2 separate regions of the Homo sapiens genome follow, and region 1 is linked to region 2. The links come from fine-mapping of genetic effects on gene expression. A gene starts in region 2. The other region holds a variant in brackets. All regions are shown on one strand. Distances are between the middles of the regions.

Region 1 (5,536 bases), 88 kb before region 2:
TGTTGACAGGGCTGCCTCAAAGTTTTAAAAAATATAACCTAAACAAATGCTATCACTGTGTATCTGTGGTATCTGATTCATTAGCCAGAAAACTGGGAGTCAGAATTTTTTTTTTGAAATGGAGTCTAGCTCTGTCACCCAGGCTAGAGTGCAGTGGCACAGTCTTGGTTCACTGCAACCTCTGCCTCCCTGGTTCAAGCAATTCTCCTGCCTCAGCCTCCAAAGTGGCTGGGATTACAGGCATGTGCCACGACGCCTGGCCCAGAAATATTGATTAAAGAAAAAGAATTGGACTTGCTCTATTTGAAATCTTAGATTTTAATATTTTACTCTAGCTACAACTTCTATCACTTAAATCACTATTTGTTAACATCTTCAACCTTTTTATCCTCTTATTCCATCAGCAAAATCCTAACCTTGGATTAATCCAACCATCTGCTCTATCAGTTCCTGTATCCAAGCTACTAAATTATCAACAAAAAATTAATATTACTGTTCACTATTTGTCACTGCTAATTCACAGGTTTTTCATTTCTGCTCTGGGTTTTTTTTTTTTTTTTTTTTAAGAAAGTCTTGCTCTGTCAACCCAGGCTGAAGTGCAGTAGTGTAATCTTGGCTCACTGCAGCCTCGACCTCCTGGGCCTCAAGCGATCCTGCTACTTCAGCCTCCTGAGTAGCTGGGACTACAGGCATACACTACCACACCCAGCTTTTTAAAAATTTTATTGATTTATTTTTTTGTAGAGACAGGGTCTCACTATGTTGCCCAGACTGGTCTCAAACTGTTGGCCTCAAACGATCCTCCTGTCTCAGCCTCCCAAAGCGCTAGTATCACAGGTATGAGCCACCTGGCCTGGATTCTTAATGAATGTTTTGGGTCAACAACATCTTCCACTGCACACAGTGGCTTTTAGAAGTCTTTAGCACTCTATTCAAATCTATGAGGTCGTCACCTCTTCCATTTCAGTTAACCTCACTTACCACTGCAGGATAAGAGGCCATAAGGCAGTAAGACCCTGATCTTCCAACCTCTACTCCCAAAAAAGTATCTGTATCCACACTCATTCTCTTTCCAATATCAATAGTATCAAGGCTAATCCCTCCTACTGTTCTTTGGAGCCAATCTCTCAACTTGTTCAGGGACCTCCCTCTCCACAGGCTTTTTTGGCCCTGAGCATATGTTCTGAGAAGTGCATCATTGGGCACTTTCGTCACTGTGTGAATACTTATACAAACCCTGATGGTACAGCCTGCTATACACTTAAGCTGTATGGTATAGCCTTTTGACAATAGGCTACATACCTGTTCAGCAAGTGACTGTACTGAATACTGTAGGCAACTGTAACACAATGGTAAGTATTTGTGCATGTAAACATAGAAAATACATAGTAAAAATACAGTAGTATAATCTTATGGGACTACCATAGTATACACAATTTGTTGTTAACCAAAACATCATCATGTGGCACCTCATGTTTAAGTCTTCCTTCTGAGAAGTGACCTCCCTTGACTCTACATCAACTTTTAGCTACTCACCCACCTCTCTTCTTTCCTGAGCAGCCAAGCTTCTGAGAATAGTCTAGATAAGCAGTTCTCAAACTTTTTGGTCTCAGGACCCCTTTACACTAGAAAATTCTTGAGAACCCCAAAGGGTTTTTCAGGAATTAAACAGAAATTTAAAAATACTCGTGTCTTAATTCATTTAAAAATAACAAACCTATTGCCCATTAACATGTTTTTATTAAAAACAAACAAAAAAACCTATATTTACGTTTTCTCTCTCTCCTATATTTAGGTTTTCTCTCTCCTGAAACTCTACACTCCAGTCATACTGCATTTCCTCAGACATGCTAAGTGCTATACATACATGTGTCTACACAGTATACTCATATCTACGAGAGCCACCTCCTTTCACTGGTTACTGCTACTTGAGATACTTGGAAGCCTGAAGTGGAAGGATCACTTGAACCCAGGGAGTCCAAGGCCAGCCTGGTCAACATAGCAAGAGCCCACCTCTAAAAACAAAAACCAAAAAACGATATTTTCTAAAACAAAAAAATTTGAGTGAGAACACTTGCACTGTTTTACATTTTTGCAAACCTTTCTGATATCACCACTAATCTCATCAGAAAAGTTTTTAAGTACTGAGAAGCTGTCATTCCAGCTGGTAAATACAAGTTTTCTAAAATTCTTTTTGCTTGAAACATGGAATTTTATCATTGACAACAAATACTGCTTTTTTCCCTTAAAGTAATAAGTGTGCTATACTTTTTATTTTCATTTAATTTCTTAGAAATTATCTCACGTATGCAAATCTGAATAATCATAGTTTGCCTGACAGTTGCTCTTCCAAGTAAAAATGGTATCTTCCCTGAAAGAGGCCAGACAACTAGCAACGTAAACAATTACTGAAGTGGTTTTCCTTAAGACAACCATCATACTTCACTGTATAGAAGAAACACTTTATGAGTACTTCCCATTTCATCACACAAAATATTAAAAACCCATACTCAAGCGTTGAGATTTAAATAAAATAATATTTTTACTGCTTTATCAAGGACATTTGTAAGTGAAACTGTCATTTTTTAAAAACTGTGACTGCATGGTGGTAAAAAATATAACGGCTACTAGCATAGTTTGGCGCTAGTGCCTTGATTCATACTAAGGTGAAAGCCATTTTATGTTGCACCATCAATGAAAATGTCAACATGGTGAAAAATGCAAATAACATCTTATTATGAAAATGGTTCTAACCTCACAGACTCTCTGACAAAGTTTCAAGGATTCTCACAGGTCCATATGCCACATTTTGAGAACTGCTGGTCAGACTAAACTGAATACATTTCAGTAAAATAAAAGCAGTATAAGAGGAGATAATGTTATTTTTTAAATGTGAAAATAGTATATGAAATACAATTTCACATGTATATTAATTTGCATGTGTTGCTATGTGTCTACAAATTTTAAAGTGTAAAAGTATATCTTTTTTTAACATGCATTTAAGTATAATGCACATTAGGGCACAGACTTTATTTCTTCTGTTACCCTTCAAAACAAATTTTTAACTAAATGATAATATCTTGCAAGTACATAATAGTTTATAGTTTTCAAAGCATTTTCACAAACATCCTCTTAAATACACTGTCACAATATACTCACTGAGTAGGAAAG[C/T]TAGGTTTCAACCCCATTTTGCAGAAGAAGGAAATGGGAAACGCAGATTTGCCTGAGGTAACGGTCAGTAAATTACTCAATCTAGAATTCAAGCCTCTGATTCCCCATCCAGTACTCTTTCCAGCAGACCTTGCTCAGTATTTAGCAGATGTTCAACTGGAATTATTTTGCCAACAAAACAAGTCATCAGTGACCAGTGCAGATGAAGGCATTATTTTCAAAGCAATCTGCTTTGGCCTAGAACAGCACAGGCCTTCCCTCTAACCATTCCATACCTGAACCCACTGCCTCAAATTCTTTCCAACCTCTATAATATTTTTTTGTTTTGTTTTGAGACAGAATCTCGCTCTGTCACCCAGGCTGGAGTGCAGTGGTGTGATCTTGGCTCACTGCAACCTCCTCTTCCCAGGTTCAAGCGATTCTCCTGCCTCATCCTCCCAAGTAGCTGGGATTACAGGCACATGCCAACATGCCCAGCTAACTTTTCTATTTTTAGTAGAGATGGGGTTTCACCATGTTGGCCAAGCTGGTTTTGAACTCCTGACCTCAGGTGATCCACCCACCTTGGCCTCCCAAAGTGCTGGGATTACAGGCATGAGCCACCACAACTGGCCCAACCTCTCTAATCTTAAGCAACACTTATTTTTTCCATCTTTCTAAACATTTTCTTGCTGCTTTTTCCTCTCTGAGTTCCTTTTTTCTGTCTTCCATTCTTTCTTTTCACGTCCCCTTCTAAAATTTTTCTACCTCACGTTCTCTGTTACTTTCTCTTTATCATCTCCTAAATTCTCACAATCTTAAAGCTTATTATACCATGTCTCAATGGCAATACCAAAACTGGAATTTATTCTGCAGCTTTAAGAAAATTTTTAACTTAAAAATATTAGATCCCCCACATTTGTTAGGCTAGTGATAGTTACCTAAAATGCCTTCAAGCACTGTGGTAGAAGTGTCTTACCTGAAGGTCTGTGTTTTAACTGCTTATATAGATCAATGGCACGCTGTTCCCTATAAAAGAGAAAACACGCTCTGATAAGTGAAGGTAATTTAATGACTTCAATAATCTACAACTTGAAACAATATTTTATTTGAATAATGAACCCATTTTAAAGCAAGTTCATATTGCCAACAAGTATTTCACAGAGCATTGTATTGAGTAATAAGAACTATACAAGTTCTTAAAATGCAAAGTTTAATATAGTTCATATCTATTCTGATCTATCATGGGGACATCTCTGCACCACAGACACTTAAAAAGACAAAAATTATGACCTATAATTCGAGAAAATATCTGAAGTTTTTAATCCAGAACTTTAATTCAGAAAAAATTTCAAGTTTTAGGGCATTTAAGAGTCAATACCTTGGACCAGAGGTATAATGAGTAGGGAAATAGTTTGTAACTTAGTTATACTTGGAAAATTCTTAACACTCCTATGAAATAAATGCTTTTATTAAAAACCAAAAAAGGCCAACCCAAAGAATTATTTCCGAAGTTTCCTGTGACTGAGAAAAAGCTTCCATTTTAAATATAATGCCAATATATTTGGGGAAAGGAAAACTATAGAAAAGAACCACTAGAGGTTTAATTTGCCAGATGTAAGCAGAAAGAATACAAAATATTACAGATGTCAAGACCAACAACACAAGTGCATCCTTACAGAGATTCCATCAAGTCTCCCTGACGTCTTCCATAGGGGCTCTTCTGTAGCTCCATGATTTCAGCATGCAAAGACATAATCTGATCCTCCAGGTATCCAATGACACCAACCTAAAATATGATGAAAATACAAAGGAAATGAAAGGCTTACCACTACATCATAGGAAACAAAATTCAGATCTTAAGGATACAGAATGACTTGCTGCTTCATTAGAGAACTAAATAATATAATACGAAACACTGATTTTGTTAAAGCCTTTCTATTCTTCAGATTCTGACACTTAATCTTTCACATAAGAACATACTTAGTCTTAGTCTTCTCTCTTTTCTCTCCTGACAACAGTAAACTACTAGTATTTGCTTTTACCTCCGGAGAAGCAAAAAGCTACAACAGGTATCAACTAACAAGAAAGAAAAAGGACCACCAAAACCATTGGTATTACTTGTATCTTGGCTCTATGATTTTGACTGCCCCCTGGTCCCCACTACCTTGAATAGGGACACAAAAAGATAAAGAACTTGGATTTCCCACCCCAGGACACCATGGGTATCCCCACCCACATCCTCAGGGTAAGTACTGACATTAAGGAGTGTAATAACTTAGGACCGTGGACAAATGTACAGGATAAGGGGAAAAAATCTGCCACCTAGAGAATGAGCTATACCTAGGGACACCATATAATTTATTGTCCAAACCGGCATAATTTT
Region 2 (5,000 bases):
TATAGAAAACCATTTCTGTACTGCTACTAATAAAAATAACAGTAGAGAACAGTGATCAATGGCACTTGACACTAGTTCCCAGTAAAGGGAGAAAACAGAAAGTGGTAAGGACAAATTAGATAGCACTAGTCCTTTTAAGAGGCAGCTGCTCAGCTCTAGTCAATTATAGCCTTGAAAGAATGCAGGGGCTAGTAGCGCCAAATCTTTGGAATTGTTAAAGAGAAGCCAAACACCTACATTTTGTTACTTGGTTTCTCTTGCTCAAAAATAAACAAACAAATAATCAGGCTGATAACTTACAGAGTCACAGCTGGGTGCAGTGGCTCACACCTGTAATCCCAGCATTTTGGGAAGCTGAGGTGTTAGGATCACTTGAGGCCAGCTTGGGCAACGGAGCAGACCTCATCTCTATTATTTATTTATTTAGGACAGAGTCTCCCTCCATCACCCAGGCTGGAGTGCAATGGCACGATCACAGCTCACTATAACCTCCACCTCTCAGGTCAAGCGATTCTCCCGTGTCAGCCTCCTGAGTAGCTGGGATTATAGGCGTGTGCCACCACACCTGGCTAATTTTTGTATTTTTAGTAGAAGCAGGGTTTTGCCATGTTGAGCAGGCTGGTCTGGAACTCCTGACCTCAGGTGATCCACCTGCCTAGGCCTCCCGAAGTGCTGGGATTACAGGCATGAGCCACCGTGCCTGGCCATATTTTTTTAAATAATAATAATAATAAAAGAAAAGTAATGAAGATCTCAGGCAGAGTGGTGGTAAAAGGAATGGAAAGGAGAGCATGGGTGCAAGAACATTACAGAAGTGGAATTTATAGGACTTGTTCAAGTAGATATTGAGGGATGGAAGCAGACTAAGATGTATCTGGGGTTTTAAGCCTGGGTGGTGCCATCAACCAAAATAGATGGAAAGAGGATCACTTGAGCTCAGGAGTTCAAGACCAGCCCAGGCAACATAGTGAGACCCTGTCTCTTAAAAACAGAAAAAGAAAAAAAAAAATTACAGATTCACAACCCCTACTATTCTGTATCAAGCCTTTTCTCATAGATTCTGATTCACAAATTTAGCTTACAGTAATTTCCTGGGGAAGTGAAACAATTTAATAAATGTTTTTGAGATGCTGTACTGGACCAGACTTCACTTTCTTTCTTTTTCTTTTTTCTTTCTCATTTTTTTTGAGATGGAGTCACACTCTGTCGCCCAGGCTGGAGTGCAAGTGGTGTGATCTCAGTCCACTGCAACCTGCAACCTCCACCTCCTGGGTTCAAGCGATTCTCCTGCCCCAGTCTCCCCAGTAGCTGGGATTACAGGCGCCCGCCACCACGGCCGGCTAATTTTTGTATTTTTAGTGGAGACAGGATTTCGCCATTTTGCCCAGGCTGGTCTCAAACTCCTGACCTCAAGTGATCCACCAGCCTCGGCCTCTGGGATTAAAGGCATGAGCCACCGCGCCCTGCCCATACTTCACTTTCTGATCCTCCTCCACACATAGGTCATGTGTCCACTTGGAAACGATCAAACACTAGTCATGTCCCAAAGGATGGGTTATCAAATCCTCAGACCAAACTAATAGGTCCCTAAATCTGCAGGTCACTCCCCGTTCCTCAATTTCATTTCTCTTTATCCCGGTAAACACATCTTCTGCTTTAGCCAAACACACTGCTTGCACATACCACCTCATTCGCTAGTTGTATCATCTCCCCCTTTTCCACCAATAATTCCCTTCACAACCCTGCTCAAAATACACTTTCCCCAAGGAAGCACTTCTTGATTACTGTTGCTGGATATGAACTCTTTTTTGTTATTGTTTTCTCATTAGTCTATGTTACAGAGGCCTGCAGAGTTGTATTTTCTTTCTCTCCCATTCATGGCCTCCCCCAACTTCCAACAGGCCTGTCTCAGGGCATGCAGGGTAGGAAGGGAGCTGCAGACTGATGCTGCTAACCATCTCCCAGGCCTCCTGGGCCAAACCGCACCCGAATCAACCCAGACCCCGCCTCACCCGTCAGTTCCCCAGTCAGGTAAGTGGCCATTTTGGAGAACATGTCCCGGCAGAGCTCAGTGATGTCAGCTTCAGCAGGCTCCTTTGCTTCCTCAGCTGTCTCCACGGCGGCATCGTCTGGGCCAAGGGAGAATGACTAAGTGTCCCGCCTACACCCGGTGCTAATCCAGCCAAAGCAGCCTGTTCCGACATCCCTCCACTTGCCTTCATTCCATCAAGTCGGCTCCATTCTCCATCTGCCATAATTTCAAGTCCTTCACTGCGTCCCTGCCCATCTGACACATCAACTCGCCTCCCTCGCACCGCCCCTCGCCCATACCCGGCACCCCCGCTCATCCTGGCACCATCCCAGTCACCCTGACAGGACAAACACTCGCGCGCAGCGACAAGTGCACTCCTCTCACCAGCCCGTTCCTGCCAGGTGAGCCACCACACACTCAACCTCGCCCACCCGAGACGGAGCCCCAGGCCCCCCACCGGACGCTTCCTCCCCATCCATTCCGGGTACCTCGGGCGGGCTCATCACTCCGGGTCGCCAGTACGCCCTCGGCTGCCGCCGCCATAGCGGACCCCGCGCTGTTTCCGGGCCGGGGTGCTGCGCATGCGCACTGGGTGTGCCCCGCCCACCCGGCCGGCCCTGCAGTCCTGCGCCTAGCGGTCCAGTCCAGCCTCAGGTCTATGACACAGCAAAGGGCGATTCCGGAGCCGAAATTGAAGCTACGCCAGGCTGTTGTGAATTGATCCACTGCCAACAGTCGCGACGTCTGGGACTGAGGGCGAGCTCATCCCTACAGTCACACCCTGGAGGGATCACTCATCTTGTACCACTCACGACCCGTCTGGGAATAGTCAACCCTGTTTGTGGCCTGCTGACCAAAACCACTGAAGACGGATTGCCCGCTCTCCTGACACTCCGCACTGGAGTTAGTCATCAAAAGATTGCTCAGGGAATCCAAAGTTTTACAGGTTGTCTCGTCCACACTTTGGGAAACCTTCAGGCATTGATCCCTGGTCCTAAATACTGTCCCTCCCAATGTCCTGAGTTAACACCAACTCACTGGCCCCTATTTCTTAAACTGCAGGCAGGCATCTACTTCTCTTCAGTTGATACAGCCTTCCTTGAAGAAAGCTTAGACTGTAACTTTTTTAGGGCTGAGGATACACTCTGGTTATCTTAATTGCATTTAAGCTGTTTCACAAGCCTCCTAGGTGTACAGAGTACTTAATGGGATGGGAGAACAGGAGTGAGTGAAAGAGATGGATGAGAAGAAGTGACTGGGGAGCAATTGAAGGTGCAAAATGAGGAGGGATAAAGGCCACAGAAGAAGGGATAGGAGATATTCAGCAGGCCTCAGGCAGGCTCCTGGACACCCAAAATCTTGGTAGTTTCTTTTCTTATCCCTGGTTATCCTCCCTCTGCACCCTCTCACCCCACCCCGATGCCAGTACATACACACACACGCCAGCTACCCCTTATCCCCAGCCCTCCTACCCTGACTGTCTCCACCCTGAGGACTGAGTCTCACTTGTCACCTGTCCCCACTTTTCCTATGGTGCAACCATAGTAGCCACTATTTCAAGCCATTCCTGCGAGCCAGAAGTTCTTTTTTTTGAAACAGAGTCTCGCTCTGTCACCCAGGCTGGAGTACAGTAACGTGATCTCGGCTCAGCTCACTGCAACCTCCACCTCCCGAGTTCAAACGATTCTCATGCCTCAGCCTCCCAAGTAGCTGGGATAACAGGCACGCGCCACCACACCTGGCTAATTTGTTTGTATTTTTATTAAAGACAGGATTTCAGCATTTTGCCCAGGCTTGTCTGGAACTTCTGGCCTCAAGTGATCCACCCAACATAGCCTCCCAAAGTGCTGGGATTACAAGCGTGAGTCACTGTGCTAGGCCTAGAAGTTCTTATAGCCCAGCTCCTTCACATCACTGCACCTACTCTATACCTCCTAGAGAGCATGAACCTATTCCAGCCCAGGCACATGGATGACCCACAATTTCAGCCTTTCTTCCCTCTATAATACCAGAAGCAAATGCAAAGTCCAAGTTTTCCTAAGGAGTTTTATTGATAGCCACCATGGAAACCCACATGGTCTTATGGAAGAATAATGTCAGAACCCACCACATATTAATTCAAAGATCTCTGAATCCTGAGTTCATTTCCTTGCCTGATTCCCTTCAGGCTCCATTTTTATCTCCTGGTTAAAGCCCACTCAGTTTCCAGGTTCAGTGGACCAGGAGGCAGCCTCTTGCAGAAGATCCTTCATAGACTTTGCTCCGGGAGTGCCTCACACTTAACTCCTCTGCAACGTTGGAATCTCACCACGGGAGAGTCTCCTCTCCTCTAAGGCTTCCTCTTCTCTTTTATAGGGAACCTCTGTGGGGGAAAACGAGAAACCCATGGGTGCTAGCAACAAATCTTGGGATGCACAAAGGATAAGAATAGGATTCACTGGGAAGTAGGAAGACATCTAGATACCGCCTACTCTCTTGGTTTCTACCTTTTTCACAGACCATGGCTATCCAGGTGCTTAGGAAGAGCCATTACCCTCCCTCTCTTTATCCTGTTTGTTAACTTTTTTTTTTTTAATTAACACACAGAGCTAAGTACACAGGGAGTAAAAGGCCCAGTGGAAGACGTTATTTCACAGAGCTATGTGGCAACACACAGAAACACTGATTCACAAGCCTAAGCATGATGCCCACCACACACAGAAACATTGGCTCAAAAGGCCAGATGCAGGGTGGGGCTCAGCAGCAGCCATGATGGGACCTGTTGTCCTAGAAGTGCAGGGGATGTGGCGAGGGGGCCTGTGCGGAGGCAGAGGGAGGGAAGCCTGCTGTCTGATGCTTTAGGCCCCCTTCCTCACCACTCTCCTGCCCACCCTGGACTCCCCAGGGGTCTGGGGTCACAGCTGGGGCTGGCTGCGGGTGCTTCCAAATAGCTTGTTCCTTCTGTTGGAAGAAGAAAGGGACAAATCAT

Which allele goes with the higher level. Alleles are on the strand shown, and positions count from the first base shown. SD is a standard deviation of normalised expression in the study named.
With allele C in place of T in region 1, the expression in follicular helper T cells of the gene that starts at base 2,596 in region 2 is higher (large effect, 1.1 SD a copy in Schmiedel 2018).

What was found.
Region 1: its variant is fine-mapped to the expression of BLOC1S2 in follicular helper T cells (Schmiedel 2018, PIP 0.93).

What each region holds. Positions count from the first base shown.
Region 1 is chr10:100,195,842-100,201,377 of GRCh38, forward strand. CHUK (component of inhibitor of nuclear factor kappa B kinase complex) reads right to left here. Exons shown (of 21, transcript NM_001278.5): 15 at 4,830-4,939; 16 at 4,130-4,179. Among named protein-coding and RNA genes, the nearest start is that of ERLIN1, 13 kb to the left of the region's middle. The variant C/T (reference allele first, on the strand shown) is at 3,172.
Region 2 is chr10:100,284,085-100,289,084 of GRCh38, forward strand. BLOC1S2 (biogenesis of lysosomal organelles complex 1 subunit 2) reads right to left here and starts at 2,596. Exons shown (of 5, transcript NM_173809.5): 1 at 2,521-2,596; 2 at 2,013-2,129. The coding sequence starts at 2,575. PKD2L1 (polycystin 2 like 1, transient receptor potential cation channel) reads right to left here. Exons shown (of 16, transcript NM_016112.3): 15 at 4,888-4,972; 16 at 4,065-4,394. The coding sequence ends at 4,312. RefSeq lists enhancers at 1,830-2,337, 1,923-2,222 and a silencer at 2,513-2,712.